2 separate regions of the Homo sapiens genome follow, and region 2 is linked to region 1. Evidence: fine-mapped expression QTL. Tissue or cell type: whole blood. Region 1 holds a variant in brackets; the other region holds the start of a gene. All regions are shown on one strand. Distances are between the middles of the regions.

What was found.
Region 2: it holds the start of RBMS1, and the variant in region 1 is fine-mapped to the expression of RBMS1 in whole blood (TOPMed, PIP above 0.99).

Annotation. Positions count from the first base shown.
Region 1 is chr2:160,418,772-160,421,682 of GRCh38, forward strand. All of the region lies in intron 1 of RBMS1 (RNA binding motif single stranded interacting protein 1), which reads right to left. Among named protein-coding and RNA genes, the nearest start is that of MIR4785, 12 kb to the left of the region's middle. The variant G/A (reference allele first, on the strand shown) is at 1,096.
Region 2 is chr2:160,492,225-160,495,135 of GRCh38, forward strand. It overlaps RBMS1 (RNA binding motif single stranded interacting protein 1), which reads right to left and starts at 1,583. Exons shown (of 14, transcript NM_016836.4): 1 at 1,065-1,583. The coding sequence starts at 1,139. RefSeq lists an enhancer at 1,124-1,644 and a silencer at 1,831-2,010.

The DNA of each region.
Region 1 (2,911 bases):
GTAATGTTCCCCTTGTTATAAAAGAAAATTATAATTGATCTCACCTTGAAAGTCATCTAATAAGAATTATTAACATACCAAACTACTGATATAGCCAAGCCTCTAACACAGGGCTTGGCACATATTAAGTGTTTGAATATTGGTTCATGAATGTTGGAATGAATGAATAAGCAATATATTAAAAATGTATGCAAGTCCTATTCAAACAGATGTTATTATTCTATAAAGTTAAAACAAGCTTATGACTTTCAAATACTTAAGAAATACTTAAGAAGGTTTGTAAATGAGTCACTGTTATCTTGGGTGAGATAATTAATCACGGTTAATTCAGTGATAAATTTTACATTCTAATTTACCAGCCAAACTTCCTCAATATTAAAGAATATCATGCTAAATTCTGTAATTTGTAATTTCTTGATTGATTTAAAATATATTCTATTTTAGGGGGACTCTTTTAAGAAGTCTTAGAATTCACTTAAGCTATTTGCTATGAACATTATTAAATATATCAGGCTAAAAAATATTGCAAATCACTATAGGAACTGTTTTCCTCCCTTTCTATGCCTGTTTGGCCCTTTATTTTAAAAATGAATCATAATTTAAGCTTTTAGTGACTGACAGATTTTTTAAAGTAGGTGTATAAACTCTTTAAAAAAATTTTGTTTTAGTCCCATGTCTACTCCTAGGTGTATAAACTCTTGTAGTTCAAAATCATATCATTCGTTTCATTCTATCATTTAACATTTAAAAGGTTATATCAGTAAATAAGAATGGACAAAGTGCTGATAATTGCTGAAGTTTTTCTTTCCACCTTATTGTATGTTTGAAAATGTCCGCAATTCAAGTATTTTTAGTGGATGTCAGTGTATTAAAAGACTTGTGAGGTTGATTCAGAGGATCCCAGACAACAAAAGTAAACTGATTCTTGGTGCTACAGCACCTAGGAAGTGACTACATAGCCGGTTATAAGTTTTCTTTTAAATAACTACTTTATCTGCCCATTTACCTTTTCCTCATGAATCTCTCCTAAAAAAGAAAATGGGAAAAAAACCAAACATTTAAAAAGTTATGAGACTACAGTCTGGATAGTACAAA[G/A]GTTACAGTAAACCCATTGAGAAATGCTGCAAATCTGAGTGATGAAACAAATAGGAGGCTGCTAATTTCTACATTTGACAGTGAAAATACACGATTTTTAAATTAGCAGCTTATCTGTGATTCATACTGACTCTCTTCTCTTTCTCCATATCTTTTATGGAGTTTTCTCGAGCTTGAACTGCTGGAACTCTTCTGTTTTTCCCTCTGACTGGTCCTTATTTACTCCAAATTGTTGTATACCCTGCTTCCAAAATAATTTTTTTCTGGCCTCTTTGGCTGTATCACTCTACTTCCTAAAACTCCCACATCAAATGCAAATTTCTGAACAGCACTTGTAAAGCTCTCCACTTTCTAACTCCCTTGTCCCTTTACCTCTATTTCCAGCTACTATTTGTGTCTTGGCTGCCCATGAACTCACTCTTCTCTAGCTCTGAGCTTTGCCAGGAAACAGCCTCTGTTTTTCCATCAGCCAAACCACACTCATCCCTCCGTTTACTCTGTTGAAATCATGCCTCATGGTCTACCCACTCTGAGTTTTTCCTACTCTCATCTATTTTCCAAGACCTCTTGCTACATTTTCTAAGGATGGTATTAATGCCTAAATTAGGCCAGCTCAGTGTCTTTACATTATAAACTCCTCTATTGAAGATACAATGATGGCCAAGATTTAGCACATACTCCCCATACGTACTCTATTGAAATGCAGCCTGCGACAGTCAGCAAGTACCCATTGACCTGGCTTCACTGTCAGTCAGTAGTTCTCGGCCTCCTTTCCAGTCCAGCTCACCTGAGGATTATGATATATTCCCCTCAGTCACTGTGGCTCACTTCTACATGATCCTGAGCCAGAAATTATGAGGACACATGCTCCCAACTTTACTGAAAATTTTTGTTACAAAGAATGAACCAGAACATGGTTACAGGAACCCAGAAAAGATAAGCATTAACCTCAGTACCCCCTACAACTTTCTCTGCTATAAAACAAGTTTTGCTGTCAGATACATAAAAATTATAGCCTCTTGAGGTAAGAAGGTTTGGAAATGATTCACTGTTATCTTGGGTGAGCATTTATTTATTAAAACCCAAGATGGTACCACGATGTATTTTAGAATGACTAAAGCAACCAAGAATTACTTTCCCCGGATGGCACAACTTCTGTTGAAACTCCAATGGTTGACCGTTCTGTCTTCCCCACACCAAGAGGCACCGTCTCTTCCTTTTCCTCTTCAAGGTACAGCAGGACAGCTCTTGAGATCCACTCTAACTTATTCTTTTTTCTTTTTTTTTTTATTATTATACTTTAAGTTCTAGGGTACATGTGTACAACGTGCAGGTTTGTTACATATATATACCTGTGCCCTGCTAGTGTGCGGCACCCATTAACTCCTCATTTAACATTAGGTAGATCTCCTAATGCTATTCCCTCCCCCCTTCCCCCACCCCACGACAGGCCCCGGTGTGTGATGTTCCCCTTCCTGTATCCAAGTGTTCTCATTGTTCAATTCCCACCTATGAGTGAGAACATGCGGTGTTTGGTTTTTTGTCCTTGAGATAGTTTGTTGAGAATGATGGTTTCCAGCTTCATCCAAGTCCCTACAAAGGACATGAACTCATCCTTTTTTATGGCTGCATAGTATTCCATGGTATATATGTGCCACATTTTCTCAATCCAGTCTATCATTGATGGACATTTGGGTTGGTTCCAAGTCTTTGCTATTGTGAATAGTGTCACAATAAACATATGTGTGCATGTGTCTTTATAGCAGCATGATTTATAATCCTTTGGGTATATACCCAGTAATGGGATGGCTGGGTC
Region 2 (2,911 bases), 73 kb after region 1:
CTGAAGAAGGCTGCTGCGTCCAACTTCCACCCTCCCAAATTCTGGCGGCTGCTTCCAAAGCAGTGAAATTTCCAGTCTTCATGGCCCAAATAATTTTTTTAAATGAGTTCGGGAGGCATCAAATTCTTATTGTAAAAATAAGATAGGCCCACTAACAAAGTACCCAGGGTCCCTAGAAAGCCAGGCGCAATTTGTATGGCTACATGTCATCAACTGTTGTTACCCAAGAGTGTGCCGAGGTCACTTTTTAAAAAGCAACATTGGAAATCGATCTGTGGCAAACATATAAGCTAGTTTTGTTTTTGTTTCTTTTTTAACCAAATACGAAGTCACTTCTTTCTCTGCACTGAAATCTGCCCATTGTCCCTCCTTTGCAAAACCTCTAGAGATTAGAAGGGACATCAATGAACGCGAGTGAACTTTGGCCACTTTTCTACCCAAAACACCAGCGTAAAAGTAGAAATCAGTAACCAGGTGAAGTGCCACACCGCACAAAGATCAGAGGCGAGGGGCGGGCGCTCAGGGCCGGAGGCGGGGAGGAAAATATCCCGGCCCCGCCGCCCCTCCAGCCCCAGTCATCGCGTGCGCGGGAGGTGGAGGGGCGTCCCTGGGGGGCGGGAGGCTCCGCGCCACGGCGAGGGGAGCGAAGAGTTACAGCTTACAGGGCGAGGCCCTTGGAGAAGGGGTCGAAAAGCCGGGCCACCAGCGGATCCAGACGCGCACACCAGGCGACGGCCGCCGGCCAGCCAGGGCTCGGCGAGGGGCGCCGCTCGACCCCACGACCCTCCCCGCTGGCCGGGCCAGGAAGGGGCTGGTGGCTCTTTCCTGTCTAGTCTCTCCCCCCGCGGCTTTCTGTAACCCGATCCCCGCACTCCGCTCCCAGGGAAGCCGCCGCCCCGCGCGCCGCCCGGCTCTGCCCAGGCCAGCGCTATAGTTAGCAACCTTCCAGCAACTCCGCCCGGCGGTGGCGGGGGTTCGCCGCGCGCCCCCCTCCCCAGGCCTGACCCTGCGCGCGTCCCCGGGCCCCCTCCTCCGGCCGTCACCTCTCCCCGGCGCCCCTTTACCTTGGCTTGCAGATACTGGGGGTAATAGTAGGTGGCGTACTGAGGGTACATCTGCTGTTTCCACACTTTGCCCATGAAGCTGGAAGGGAGCCTGCCGTGCAGGGTCGCGGACACTTTGGGGTTTCCAAGTCTCGGGCTCTCCTGCCTCTCCCTTTCCGGCGGCGGCGGCAGCGGCGGCGGCGGCGGCGGCTGCTGCTGCTGCCGCTGCTCCACCTCCCAGCCGGGACCAGACGTCCTCCTCCTCCTCCTCCTCTTCCTCCTCCTCCTCCTCCTCCTCCTCCTCTTCCTCCTCCTCCTCCTCCTCCCAGGCAGAAAGAAAGACACTGCAGAGCGCAGAGGGCACCCCGGACAGGGCGCTCCCAAGGAGTTTCCTCCCGGAGCCCGACTGCTCCGGGGCTGCCAAGGGCTGGCGCGCTGGCCGCGGTCCGCTCGGGCGAGCCGGCTGCGCGGGGCTGAGAGGTGATCAATACAAGTGGAAAGTGCGGCAGCGGCGGCTGCGCTTGGTGCCAGGCGGCATCTGGGGTGGGTGCGCCCGATGTGGAGAGAGGAGAGGGGCTGGCGTTCCGAGGCCGTGGGGGAAGGGCGGGCGGGGGCGGGGCCTGGGCGCCGCCGAGCCCGGGACCCGCTGGAGGTGAGGGCTGAGTTTTAACCACTCCTCACCTCCCAGGCTCGCGGTTGGACGGGCGGAAGCCCTGTGAGTCCAGATCGCTTTGTGTCGGGGGTGGGGAAATGGGAGTGGGAGTGGGGGTGGAGGGGGAATGCGGGGGGACCCAGCTTAAGAACTGCAGGGCGGGCACCTCTTTTGCTTTCCCGAGTTTTTATCTTCGTAAGGGGGAGGGGAAATAAGGGAAAAGAGGAAATCTGATTAATCGTTCACTTCCCACCGCCCAGTAATTTTTTTTCACAAGGGAAGGAAAATGATTTAATGCCCAACAAAGCTGGAGTCTGGACACCTGGGTTCTGTTCCTCCCACCCACCCCCGACCCGGGGCCACAAGACTAATCTAGGTGACCTTGGGAGGGTTAGCGTCCTTCGGTTTGGTTTTCCCAGATGTGAGACGTGAAATCATGCCCCTTGCACAAGGGGAGGCAAAGCACATACATACATACACACACACACACACACACACACACACCCCTCACAACATATAGACGGATCCTTCTAAGAGGGGGATGCCGCAAAGAGGCAGAATGTTATTAGAGGACACAATATAGACATCAGCTTTTCTCTGCCTCTTTCTAATGCTGCCAGACAGTCTGTCAACTCCCACTCAGGAGCAAGGAAACTCCCTGAGTTTGGAATATTTTAAGGCCATTTTGAAAGTCACGCTGGCATATTGTTGCAGTGTGCTTCAGTGACATATAAAATCAATCTCTCTTTCTGCCTCTCTCCATCTCCTAATTGTCACAGCTCTAGACAGCCTCAGACCAGCAGTGGTTCAGTTCACTACATAACTAGATATAATTTAATGGAATTAATTGGTCCCCGAAGCTGCCTGCAGAAGACTTTTATATTCCAGCTCAAAAAGAGAGCTAATACCAAAATGTACATACGGATAGCATAGGTAAGCAAGCATCCTCAAATTAGGGTTCCGGCACATCTAATAAAATGTAATAAAAAACTGTGTTTGTTATTAAATAGACCTTGTTTACTTTGTCATTTTGGTTTTTGAAGAGTCTTTTGTTAATAGCACAAGGTAAATTAAACTCAACTGGAATGCATTATTTTGTTAAACAGTTATTATTTTTATATGATAACATTTTAAAATAGGTTTAGTAAGATACTTTAAAACAATGACAAAATAAGGACCTGAAACCCTTATAATCGTTCTATGGTTTAGACAAATT